2 linked regions of the Homo sapiens genome follow. The protein of the gene in region 1 interacts with the protein of each later gene in a pairwise test. Each region holds a gene or a part of one and is shown in the gene's direction. Other genes may lie near its edges.

Region 1 (7,028 bases):
CCCGCCTCGGCCTCCCAAAGTGCTGGGATTACAGGCGTGAGCCACTGCACCTGGCCACTTTCATAGTCATTTTAAAGCTGGAAAGTGTCGTGGTAATCTTTTACCTATTGTAGTTTCATTTTTTAAATGAGGAAACTGGCTTAGATATGTAAGTGATTTACTGAAATCTTCAAAACCAAGTCTTCCCAGTGTTTTGTTAAACTAAAATCTTAGACATGTGAGCAACTTGGACGTTCAGAGCTACATTTAAAATCCTTAATTCTGGCTCTAGGTAAATAGCTTAAAGTTTTGATTTGAGTCCTAAGAGATTTTTTCAACTGGTATTGTATTGGAATCAGGGAGGGGCTGGCTCACCTGATGCTTCTGAAAGCAAAGCAGTAATTTAACATATTATAAGTTGGCACAAAAGTAATTGTGGTTTTTGCCATTACTTTTAATGGAATGTATTAATTATTAAATATATAAATAATATAGAATTAATATATTAATATTAATATATTAAATATACAGTTAATATTAAGTATTATATAGTTAATATTTAATATATAATATATTTAATGTTAAACATACTATACATAATATATATTTAATATATTAAATAGATAATATATATTTTATATATATATAAATATATTCCATTAAAAGTCATGGTAAAAACTGCAATTACTTTTGCACCAACATAATACTTTGTTTATAGTGACGGTATTTAACTTATTTTGAATAAATATTAAAGATGATGTGAGCTTTTATTTATCCTAAGTGATTACAACGAATGGATCTTGTTTTTATATGACTTTGAAAGATAACTAATAACTATTTTAATAAAAAATAGTATTGCATATGAGAATCTAAATTAAAGTAAGACAACTAAGCTTCTTGTCAGCAAAGTTAATTCCTAAATATGAAAGCCTTAGGTTCTATTTGTTTTTTCTGTTGTATACTAAATGTCCGTGTTACCATAACTATATAGAAATAGTTTGAAAAACTATATTTTATATTATGAAAATTATATTGCATCATTTAAATACTAATTTTCATATGTACATATTTTCTTAAATTATCTCAATGGATACCACTATAATAATGCTGTGATGAATATTTTCATGAATATATCCTTTAGAAAAATTTTTTCAGATGTATTTGTAGAAGTAGGATTTCTCTGTCAAAAAAGCATCAACATTTTTAGATTATTATTACTCAATTGTGTACATATTTCTTAATGTGGATATAAATATATATGTTTGTGTGTAATATACACATACAAATGTGGATGTCTGTTATAGATATAATATCTATTATATCTGCTTAATTTATTGTTTTATTGCTTTCTAAAAAGATTATTCTACCACCTTATAGAGATACTAGCAGTGTGTGAAGAGCTGACTGATTTCTCAATAACCTCATCAACTTTAGTACTTTAGTTAATATTGTCTCCCCTGAGTTTCACAAGTGAAATGATGATTATAGTTCATTGTTTCAGTTTGTACTTTGTTGATGACTAATGAGGTTTTAGCTATTTAAAGATGTAGAATTTTCTGTTAGAAAAAAAATTCAACTCTAAGATAGTAAAATATATTTTGTCATTAGGGAATGTGAGAATAAAGGAATAGTTGGTTGATTACTAAAGAAAATGTCATATAATTAATGAGAAATATAACTTAAAATATCAGATAATTGATATAAAGAACTGCTCTCAGTCTTGTCAAGAAGCCAGGCACATAAACAATTTTACTTTGAATAAGACTTTTAAAAATTTTACAAAGTTTTATAAAAAGTAGTACATTGAGGCCAGAAATGGTGGCTCATGCCTGTAGTCCCAGCACTTTGGAAGGCTTGGGGGAAGGATCGCTGGAGCCCAGGACTTCCAGGTTGCAGTGAGCAATGATTGTACCACTACACTCCAGCCTGGGATACAGAGGGAGACCCCATCTCTAAAATAAATAAATAAATGAAATAAAAAATTAATATATTGCATTTCATCCATTGTGCCACCATGTTAGAAATAATATTCTTCAAATTTATGCTTATAGAAATGGGACGTCGGTCATCAGATACTGAAGAAGAAAGCAGAAGCAAGAGAAAAAAGAAACACCGTAGACGGTCCTCCTCGAGCAGTTCTTCAGATAGTAGAACATACAGCCGAAAGAAAGGAGGAAGGAAATCAAGATCAAAGTCAAGATCTTGGTCCAGAGATCTTCAGCCTCGTTCACATTCTTATGATAGAAGGTGATTTTTGTAATTTTTATTTATATAGTAATGAGGATAACATTCTTTAAAATTCATGTTTTTGTATTTTTAATTTTGCTAGATAAAACATTTTTCTTTTACTAGCTATATATTTATGAAAGTCCCAACCCAGAGTTTTTTTGTTCCACCAGGTCCAGTCCGTGGGTCTAGTGTCCTCAACCTTTGTCTGTTCTTAGTAGGCAAATAGATAGAAAGTGGTGTAGTTTCCTTTTTTAATTTAATTTAATTTTTTTTCTAGTGCATTTATTTATTTATTTTTCTAATGAATTATTTTTTATTTTATTATACTTTAAGTTCTAGTACACAACATGCAGGTTTGTTACATATGTATACATGTGCCATGTTGGTGTGCTGCATCTGTTAACTCGTCATTTACATTAGGTGTATCTCCTAATGCTATCCCTCCCCTAGCCCCCCACCCCATGACAGGCCCCAGTGTGTGATGTTCCCCTTCCTGTGTCCAAGAGTTCTCATTGTTCAATTCCCACCTATGAATGAGAACATGCGGTGTTTGGTTTTTTGTCCTTGCGATAGTTTGCTGAGAATGATGGTTTCCAGCTTCATCTATGTGCCTACAAAGGATGTGAACTCATCCTTTTTTATGGCTGCGTAGTATTCCATGGTGTATATGTGCCACATTTTCTTAATCCAGTCTGTCATTGATGGACATTTGAGTTGGTTCCAAGCCTTTGCTATTGTGAACAGTGCTGCAACGGAGTTTTGCTCTTGTTGTCCAGGCTGGAGTACAATGGCGTGATCTCAGCTCACTGCAGCCTCTGCCTCCCAGGTTCAAGCAGTTCTTCTCAGCCTTCCAAGTAGCCGGGATTCCAGGCATGCACCACTATGCCCAGCTAGTTTTGTATTTTTAGTAGAGACAGGGTTTCACCATGTTGGTCAGGCTGGTCTTGAACTCCTGACCTCAGGTGATCTGCCCTCCTCAGCCTCCCAAAATGTTGGGATTACAGGCGTGAGCCACCGTGCCTGGCCTTAATTTTAAATTTTTTTAGAGACAAGATCTTGCTCTGTCACTCAGGCGGGAGTGCAGCGGTGCAGTCATATCTTTTGGACTCAAGGGATCCTCCCACCTCAGCTTCCTGAATAGCTAGTACTAGAGGCATGTGCCACCATGCCTAGCTAAGTTTTTTTATTTTTATTTTTTGTGGAGACTTGGCCTTGCTGTGTTGCCCAAGCTGGTATCGAATTCTTGGCCTCAAGCGATCCTCCTGCCTCGGCCTCCCAACATGTTGGGATTACAGGCATGAGCTACTGAGCCTGGCCTTGGTTTAGTTTTCATACCATATAATCTGATGATATTTGGAAAGATTCTAAGACCCTTAATACCTTAATTAGTACTGATCCAATCACTAAGTTATGAACCAGTCATATGACTGTTCAAGAGAAATAACATTTTAATTTATCTCTGTTTGCTTCCAGGAAACAGTGAGACAGTAAAAATCAGATGATTCTTTAGAATCTAGAAGGTTTTTCCTTAATGCTCATAATAAAAATTTTTATAGCAGTGATCTTTGATTATATTTTATTTCAGACGCAGGCATCGATCAAGCAGTAGCTCTTCTTATGGCTCCAGAAGGAAACGAAGTCGAAGTCGTTCAAGGGGTCGAGGGAAATCCTATAGAGTTCAGAGGTCTAGGTCAAAAAGCAGAACAAGAAGGTATGCCTTATTAAGTATTTATTGCTTTGTAACAAATTATTCCCAAATTCAGCGATGTAAAGCAACAATCATTTATTTTCTTATAATTATATAATTTTGATTGAGCTTAGCTGGCACTTATTTTTTTCTCACCTGGGGTCATTCATGCAGTTAGTCATCTGATAGCTTGATTGGAACTGGATGGTCTAATGTGGCCTCACTCATATATCTTGCATTTGGTTCTGGCTATTGGCCGGGGTGTACGTGGCTTCTCATTGTCCAGTAGGCTAGATTGGGTTTCTTTTTTTCAGCCCGGTGGTGGTAGCACGTGCGTTCCCCAGACATGAGTTTACTAGTATTTTGTTAAGGATTTTTGCGTCAGTATTCATCAGGGACTTATGGCTTGCAGTTTTCTTGTAATATATTTGTCTGGCATTGGTATCAGAGTAATGCTGGCCTGATAAAATGAGTTTGGAAGTACTCCCTCCTTTTCAGTTTTTTTGGAAGATTTTGAAAAGGATTGACATTAATTTCTTTTTAAATGTTTGGTGGAATTCTGCAGTGAAGCTATCTGCTCCTGGGCTTTTCTTTGTTAGAAGGTTTTTGCTTACTGATTCAATCTCCTTGTTAGTTATACGTCTGTTAAGATTTTCTCTTCCTTCATGATTCAGTCTTGGTAGGTGGTATGTTTCTAGGAATTTATCCACTTTTTCTAGGTTATCCAGTTTATTAGCATTCTTAGTAGTCTTTTATAATCCTTTCAATGTTTGTGGCATCAACTGTAATGTCTGCTGTTTCATTTCTGATTTTAGTTATTACGCTTCTGGTATTTTTTCTTTTTCTTTCTTTCTTTTTTTTTTTTTTTGGAGGTGAGGTGTTGCTCTGTCACCTAGGCTTGGGTGTATTGGTGCAGTCAGCTCACTGCAGCCTCAAACTCCTGGGCTCAATGATCTTCTCACCTCAGTCTCCTAAGTGGCTAGAAATACAAGCATACACCACCAGGCCTGGCTGACTTTTTAAAATATGTTTTGTAGAAATCAGTCTTACCATATTGCCCAGGCTAGTCTCCAACTCCTGGTGTCAACTGGTCCTCCCACCTTATCCTTCCAAAGTGCTGGCATTATAGGTATGATCTACCTTGCCCGGCCTCATTTTTTCTTAATCTAACTAAGTACTTGTTAATTTTGTTGTTGTTTTTCAAAAAACTCTTAGTTTTGTTGATTTTTTTCTAAAGTCTTTCTGTTCTCTATTTTATTTATTTTTTTCTCTAATCATTTTTATTTTCTTTCTTTGGATAATTTTTGGTTTAATTTGTTCTTTATTTAGTTCCTTGAAGTATTAAGTATGATATGAGACTTTTCTTTTTTTCTTAAATGTAGGTGTTCATGCTAAAACTTTCCTTTCAGTATTGCTTTTGCTGTTTCTCTTAAGTTTTACTATGTGTGTTTGTGTTTTCATTTGTTTAAAGGTATTTTCTAATTTCTCTTATGATTTCTTCTTTGGTGTATTTGGTTGTTCAAGAGTGTGTAGTTTAATTTCTACATATTTGTGGATTTTCTGATTTTTCTACTGCTATTGATGTCTAGTTTCATTTCTTTGTGTTTCGAAAAGATACTTGCTATGATTTCGGTCTTATTAAATTTGTTAAGACTTGTTTTGTGGCCTAACATGAAATCTGTCGTGGAGAATGTTCCATGTACACTTGAGAAGAATGCATATTTTGCTGCTGTTGTGTGGAGTGTTCTGTGTATTTATGTTAGGTCTAATTCATCTGTAGTGTTGTTCAGGTCCTCTTATGTCTTATTTTTCTGTCCATTATTGAAAGTGGATTATTGAAATACCCTACTATTACTATGTTACTAAATACTTCTCCCTTCCATTCTGGCAATGTTTACTTTATATATTTGAGTGCTCTGGTGTTAGGTGCATATATATATAATTGTTATATATTCCAGAATAATGACCCATTTATCATTATATAATTTTCTTTTTTTCTTGTGACAGTCTTTGACTTAAAGTCTATTTTGTCTTGTGTAAGTATGGCCACTTCTGCTCTTTTTTTGTACCATTTGTATGGATTATCTTTTTCATCTTTTTCAGTATATGTGTGTCTTTACATCTAAGGCACATCTTTTGTAAACAGCATATACTGTAATTGTATTTTGTGTGTATGAGTGTGTGTTTTGAAAAATTCATTCAGCTACTTTTGTGTGTTTTGTTTGGGGAGTTTAATCCAGTTACATTTACAATAATTACTGATGGGGAAGGACTTACTGTTGCCATTTTGTTGATTGTTTTCTGCCTTATAGCTATTTTGTCTCTCATGTCTCCTGCTGCCTTCCTTTTTGTTTTGTTGATTTTTGTATTGACATGCTATGATTTTTTTTCTGATTTTATTTTGTATATGTTCTATAGGTATTTTCTTTGTGGTTGCCATGAGGCTTACACAAAACATTGTCTTTTAAGTTGGTAATAACCTTTGACTTTATACAAAAATACTGCTCTTGTATGTTTCTCCACTTCTATTTTATGTTATTGATATCACAGTTTACATCTTATTGTATCCATTAATATAGCTTATAGTTAGTTATTTTTTATACTGTCATCTTTTCAATTCTATATCTGAATTAAAAATGTTTTACATACCACCATTACAGTGTTAGTGTACTCTGTACTTGTGTATATATTTACCTTTACCAGTGAGCTTTATGTTTTCATGTACTTTTGTGTTGCTGTCTAGTGTCATTTCATTTCCACTTGCAGGACTCCTCTTAGTATTTCTTGTAAGGCAGGTCTGGTAGTGAAGAACTCCCTTAGCTTTTGTTTATCTGGGAAAGATTTGATTTGTCTTTTGTTCTTGTAGAACAATTTTGCTTGATATAGTGTTCTTGATTGACAGGGTTTTTTTTGTTTTTGTTTTTGTTTTTGTTTTTGTTTTTGTTTTTGTTTTTTGCTTTCAGCACTTTGAATATATCACCTGATTCCTTTCTGGCTTGTAATGTTTCCTCTGCAAAATTGCTGAAATCTTATGAAAGCTCCCTTGTGTATGACGATTTACTTTTCTCTTGCTGCTTTCAAGATTCTCTCTTTGCCTTTAACTTTTGTTAATTAGATTATAATGTGTCTATGT
Region 2 (7,028 bases), on another chromosome or scaffold:
TTAATATTTGTTTATAGATGAAGGCCACCCCTCTGAATAAACTTCCTCAGGATATTTTAAGTCTATCTCTCAAGGTAATTTAGTACCAGGATAGAAACATATATTCAATTCATTGATTTCATAGCAATATGCATACATCATGCAACTGCAATCTAAGCAACCCCCTGCTTAGTCTCTCTTTCTCCTCTACCCCTCTGTGGGGCATACTTGATGAGGCAATAGCTTTATAATGTATCAAATTGCAACCAGATGTCTGCCTCAAATGTCAGAACAGTAGAGCAGAGTGGGAAGCAGTATATCATAGTGGTTAAGAGCTCAGACTTGAGCATGAGACAACCTGGATTCCTGTCCTGGTTCTATCATTTACTAGCTGTGTATCCTGAACAAATAGTTTTACCACACTGAGCTTGAAAATAGAAATAATAACAGTAACCCCTCAGACAACAGGTTGTAAGGATTTAGTTAGGTAAAGCTCTACCCCTATGTGTGGTGCATGGTGTTGTTTAGTAGACATTGACTCTGGAACAAAGCTTATAGTGGCCAAAAGGAAAGCAACAACTCCTCATCATTGTGTTCTCCATGCCTACCCATTTCTCCCCCAAGTAATGCTGACCATTTTTATTGGGATTTCAACTCCTGATGGACAACTACATTCAGATGAAGTTAACACACATGAGGCAGGGTAGAGAGTGGTCCCATAATCCTCGTCTCTGAGAAGAGGCTAACTGCTTTCTGATCTGACTGTTTCAGTTAGGGGGTTGGGGATAATAAATAATTATCTGGATTCAGAATTGATTGGTATAACATTTCCATGGAGCATTCTGTTGGTTTGTATAGAGAAGACCAGGTACTGTCAGTCTAAAGAAAGCTCAAACTTCTTGAAAAATCACAATTTTAATCCCACGGTTTCATCAAATCTACAGTGACTATGTGATTTATAGTTTATATCAAAATGTCTTTAAAAATGAAAGAAGGTGTCATTAGTAATTACCTAGGATGGAAGATCTAACAGAGATCATCCCAGGCAAACCAGGATGTACAGTGGTCCTTGTCAAACTTTATCTACCAGCCGGAAGGGAACCAGCATGAATCGATAAGATATATGAATCTCTAAAGTGTAGAGAGCCACCTCCCTTTTATCCCCATCCAAGAAGGGTAGTCATTTTGCCTGGCATTAACTTAATTCTCTTTTTTAATTGCTTAGCCTAGAGAAGTTTGTACCTAAGAAGTTTCAGCTCGGTGAAAACCTAGTGCTTAAGGCTAGATCAAGCCACAATATGATTTCATATCACCATATCGACCAATAGTAGCAGCTAAAGGCTTAATGAACATGTAAAAATCATTTGAAATTTGCATATCAATTGTTTATGGATGCATGAGTGTTAGTAAAGGGCTAGAAAAGATATCCCCTTAAGTAGAACACACATTTTCCTTACAATTCTTTTAGCAAGCTATTAATTTTCTTCAAAAATCCTTTCTACGCAGAATAGACCAGAAGTAGACTTCAGCCCAGGCCCTGTCCAAAAGGCCATAAATTCCAAACTATTGGAGATTTTACTGCATAAAGGGAAATTGTAAGGCAGAAAAAAAAATGCCTTTGAACCATTTAATTCAAGACTCCCCTCGGTGCCAAGAGATCAGTTAGCAGTTTGTGCTGACTTGATCATCAGGAGCCAGGTGAGGGGCTGTTGAGAGGCGATTTTCTGGCAGCAGCCTGTGGTTAAGAGCCAATGCGCTGAGGGTCACAGAAAATGCTTGCCCTGGCGGTGAATGAGCGTTTTTCTCTAGGAAGGGAGCGTTATTGTGTGGGTCAAACCTTTCTCCTTTTGAAAGGTGAAATTTGTTGAATGGGATACAGGGGTTGGTTGCAGGGGGTCATTTCTGACATTCTGCTGTGTTCACCCGGCACACGTGCTATCTTAGAGAACGAGGTTGTGGTAGATGTTCAGTGAATGTTGGATGCATTAATTAGATGAATGTGCATGGTTCAAACCCAGCAACAGATTAGCTCTCTCCCCACCCCACCTCCAGTTCTGAGACGCTGAGGCTTCTGATCAATGCAACTTGAAAGACGCACACACTGCAAATAGACTTGACTCTCCCTGGTGTCAGAATGAAGTTCCCTAGATAGAGACATCTGTCTGTCTGGGCAAGTAGACATGTTAGCCAGTATGGGGGCAGGAGGTTGGACTAAATGCCACTTGGATGTGCTTTCTAGGCCTGTAAGTCTCCATTACCTCCACCACTGCTCCAGGCCACCAAAAAAAGGGAACATCCCTAAAACCCTAACTCCTTTAATAGGGAAGGAAGCCTGGGTCACATGCCTTCTTCTCCATGAACTCTTCAGGCATGCTGCAGAAGAGCAATACATTAAAAAAAAAATCTGTTTTTTTTATTTTTTATTTTTCAGAGTGGCTGGATTTACCTTCCCGTGAAGTGGAAGAATTCACAGGGGCTTAGCAAAACTAGAGCTCTTTAATTGCTTGTTCCTAAGACTTTCGCTGAAGTGTGAGAGAATATTTCTGAGGTGGAGGAAGTAGAATGATGAAGAGTTTGAGCTCTGAAGTCAAATCTATCCAGGCTCAAATCTTTCTTTGCTACGTGCAAGCTGCAGGACCCGCTAGTCACTTCACCTCTTTGTGCCTCAGCCTCCCCATCTGTGAAATACTCCTCTGTTGGGGTTGTAGTGAGGAGTGAATGAGATAATTTATATAAAGAGCATGGCACTGTGCCTGGTACAAACCCAGATCTCCATAAAGCAGATGCTCTTGTGTACTATGCCAGGGGCTACCCAACGAGATGCAGAGAGGGGGGATGCTAAAGCCCCTTACTACCTGGGCTGCGCTTGTTCAGTAGTGATGCTTGGGTTCTGTGGACTGGACTCCTGAGCAGCTCCAATGCTCTGTATTCACTTTTAAATGTGGCTTTGGTGCTCCCTAAAGAGCCACTGGAGATTGGTAGAGCTGTTTGAAACATTTGATGGACCTCAGGGGCACACTAATCAAAGGAAGTGTTTTATTTTATTGGTTGCAAATGCTTACGGGCTATGAGACTTGGCAAGCAGCTTGACCTTCTCAATCTCAGTTTTCTCATCCATAAAATGGGGCTAATAATAGCAGCTCCCTCCAAGAGCTGCTGTGAGGACTGGATGAGCTAATTTATGGAAAGTGCTACTTGGCACCCAGTCAGAGCTCCATCAGTGTTGGCTCTTGCTATTAATAATAAATGATAGGTTTTTTCGTTACTATTTGCCAGGCCCATTGGGGAGAAAAAAGTTGAATGTCCTCTAGTGAGGGCCTCAGAGTTTAGTAGAAAAGGTAGACACAACATAAGTACATATTTCATAAGGGAGACAGTCTTTTTAATTTTTAAAATTTGTTTTCACATAATAACTGTACATATTTGGGGGATACATAGTGGTGTTGTGATACATATAATGTACAGTGATCAGATCAGTGTAATTAACATATCCATCATCTTAAACATTTATAATTTCTTTTATTAGAAACATTCAGTATTTTTCTTCTAGCTATTTGAAACTGTAAAACATATTATTGTCTTAAGCATGATAATGTAGGGAGAAATAGAGACAGAGGAATGTAAAAAAAAAACAGCGAAGGGAGAGACCCTTAATGAAGCATGGAGTCCCTTGCTTATAGTCACACAGTTATTTTTAGTTATCCGATCTGCAAAATGGGGATGATTCTTCTATTTCATCAACGTTATCTACAAATACAAGGAATGATCAGAGAAAATCAGACCTTTGCCCCCAGCAGGGTCTCAAATACCATTTCTTTTAATAGGAGAGAAAGCAGGCTAAACTCTCTGAGGGGAACATTAACTGTGGGGGAATAGTCAACGCTAGTGGAGGGGAGCCGTGGAAGGGAGCTGCTCATATAATATACATTTTCCAGCTCAAGGATGCAGTCTCTGGCGTGGGCTATTAGGCTTCTTGTCCTTCATGGACCAGCTCTAGCTAATAGGAAATCTAGTCTGCATTCCATGAACAACCACCAGTGATGGGGGGATTATAGCGAGCCTGCAAATGTGGAAGATAAAATTAATCACAGGGGAATTAATACACAAAGTGGAAGAAGCTGCACGTTGGCTAAAAAAAAATTAGGTTGTACTTTCATTCATTTATTCAGTCATTCAACATTTTTATTGAACCACTACTCAACGTAACAGTGAATGAACACAGGAACTCCCTGTTCCCGTGGAGGAGAAAGACAATAAATGAAGAACCAAATAAATAAATGAGAGCTGGTGGTAATGCATTCTGTAAAGAACAATAAAGCCAAGGAAAGGAATAGAGGGTGAGGGAATGAGCTGCTTTGTTGGACAGCATGATCCCTGAGTGAAGGGAGAGGTGAGCTGTGAGGATAAGTGAGAGAAAAGTGTTTGAGGCAGAGGGAACAGCAAGTGCAAAGGCCCTGAGGTAGAAGGATGCTTGGTGTATTTGAGAAATAGCAAGGAGGTCAGTGTGGCTAGAGCAGAGTGAGTGAATGGGAGAGTGACAGAAGATGATTCCCAGGATGCAGGCAGAAAACAGATCAAGTGGGGCCTTGTAAGCCAGTTCAGGAAATTCCTAGGTCCTGGGCTGGGGGCAGGAGGTGGTCCCAGGAGGGTTCTTGCCTTCTCAAGCAGAGTTCCAGATCTGATCTGCTTCTGTTTGACTCCTCTTTCCTGACTCTGATGCAGCCAGTGATGACTTTGAACAGCAATATCAGAAGATTGGCTGGGTCCCTCCATGTGTTATGGACAAGCATGAAATTTACAGTCCCTTTGATTGTGAACAATCACATCAGGAAACTTTAAAGATGCTGTTTAGACTTCCAAATAGCAGTGATAGATTTTGTTCCCACGGTGCAAGGGTTTGGTCTCTCATATTCATGCATGCAAACCTAGACTATCCCTTGCACCCAGTAGCCCCCTCCACTGCACACTCTTGAAGCTACAGTCTGCTCTTTCTGTCTCTCTCCCTCTGTGTATCTCTCCCGGCACCTGTCCCCCCACACCTTCCAGCCCCCCACTCCATTTGAAATTTTGCTGAGGGAGCTCCCATATGCTACAGCCTCTGTGCGGAGCTCTGTGAAATAGAACACTGAATTAAGATGTCATAGAGACAAAGCCAAACCAAATACAGGAACAATGCCGAACCCTAAAACAGTCATTAAGTAATTCATGTCTACGTGTGTCTGTTCAAAACAAATATTAAGATCCTCTGGACGCAAATCTTTCTCATCCGGAGAATCCTCTGGTTGCTGGATTCCCAAAGCTTAGATGCCGCTGTCGGACAGCTTTGCTGAGTACAAATACCAACAGATCACTGTTCTCTGGCTTCGTTAAAAGTTAAGCTTAGGCAACTGAGCAGGAATTTAGAAGACAGTTGCCACTTCTGCAGAAAGAGAGGTGCCATTTGGGCCTGAAGCGTGCATCTTCATGGTGTGTGTGCACGCTCACTTGTGGTGGGAATGTGTGTGCTAAGAGCCTTGTGTTACTATGTGCCTTGCCCTGTGCTGAACACATTTCATCTCTTATCCAGTTCTGTACTTATAATAATTCCAGAAGAGAGGTGTCTTCAAGACCCTATTTTACAGATGAGAAAACAGAGGCTCTGAGAATAGAAATGATCTGCTCACAGACACATGGCTGGTAAGAGTCAGAATTGGAATGAGAACCCAGAGCTCTTAACCAACATGTTTATAGGATAAGACACTTTGCAGAGGAGGAAAAAATGGTATCACAGAGGGGAGGTAAGCCCTGGGAATCCAGCAACCAGGGGAGTCTCTAGATGAGAAACCTTTGCGTCCGGAGGTTCTTACTATTTGTTTTGAACAGACACACGTAGATGTGAATTGCTTAATGACTGTTTCAGGGTTCGGCATTGTCCTATTTGGTTCGGCTTTGTCTCTATGTCATCTTAATTCAGTGTGCCCATGATCACACGGTGTGTAAGTGATGAAAGCAGGAGATGAATTCAGGTCTGTCTGATTGCTAGTATATTCTTCTCTCCTGGCTGGACTTCCTGTCATTCTGGTTTGGGTTTTAAGGTTGGGGGTGTTTTTGTTTTGTTTTGCTCATCTTGTTTTATGTTCAATCAGTTTAGTAACTGCCATTGTTATAATCCCATCTCATACCACTTGCAGCAATACTGCTTTCCTCTTTCCTTGCCCCTCTTATCCATTATCCACATAGACCCAGAAGAACCTCTTTGAAAAGCACATCAGACCATGTAAGCCCTCTCTCCCTCCATCTAAAGCCCTCTATCACTTTCTCTTGTTTGTGTTTTTTTGGTTTGTTTTTGTTTTGAGATGGAGTCTCGCTCTGTCACCCAGGCTGGAGTGCAGTGGTGCGAACTCAGCTCACTGCAACCTCTGCCTCCCAGGCTCAAGGAATTCTCCTGCCTAAGCCTCCCAAGTACCCACCCCGCACCCAGCTAATTTTTGTATTTTTTTAGTAGAGACAGGGTTTCACCATTTTGGCCAGGCTGGTCTTGAACTCCTGACCTCAGGTGATCCACCCTCCTCGGCCTTCCAAAGTACTGGGATTACAGGTGTGAGCCACCATGCCTGGACCCATGTTTTTTTAAGTATACAGAGCCAGCTCCCTGCCATGGCCTCTAGCCTCTTCATGGTCCACTTCCTGCCCACCTCCCTGAGACCATTTCTAAAACACCACCTCTCACTTCCTCTGTTTAGTTGCATCTTATTCCTTTTAGTTACTCACATTTTCCAGGCTCCTTCCTGCCATGGAGCCTTTGCACATGCTGCTAGGAAAGCTCTTCCTCTCCCCTGGTGCCTGATTTATACCTACTCCACTTTCCAGAGCTCAGAGGAAATGCTGTTTCCTCGGGGATCCTTCCAGAATGCTGCAGACTAAGTCATACCCCTCATTACAGACATTACTTTCTTATCACTGTTTTCAACACATTTGTAATTATATATGGATTTGGGCGATCATTGGCTAAAGCATACCTCTCCTAACGGTTGAGGCCTCATGAGGAGAGGGACTGTGACTATGAGCTC

The links. The genes of interacting proteins can lie anywhere in the genome.
Region 2: the proteins of RSRC1 (region 1) and SRRM4 interact in binary tests that used the Homo sapiens proteins (3 or more experiments, as listed by UniProt).

The regions. Positions count from the first base shown.
Region 1 is NC_000003.12:158,120,073-158,127,100, forward strand, and holds part of RSRC1 (serine/Arginine-related protein 53), read left to right. Parts: intron 1-2,030; 5' UTR 2,031-2,032; coding exon 2,033-2,226; intron 2,227-3,793; coding exon 3,794-3,919; intron 3,920-7,028. UniProt on the Homo sapiens protein: Has a role in alternative splicing and transcription regulation. Involved in both constitutive and alternative pre-mRNA splicing. May have a role in the recognition of the 3' splice site during the second step of splicing.
Region 2 is NC_000012.12:118,984,527-118,991,554, forward strand, and holds part of SRRM4 (serine/arginine repetitive matrix protein 4), read left to right. Parts: intron 1-7,028. UniProt on the Homo sapiens protein: Splicing factor specifically required for neural cell differentiation.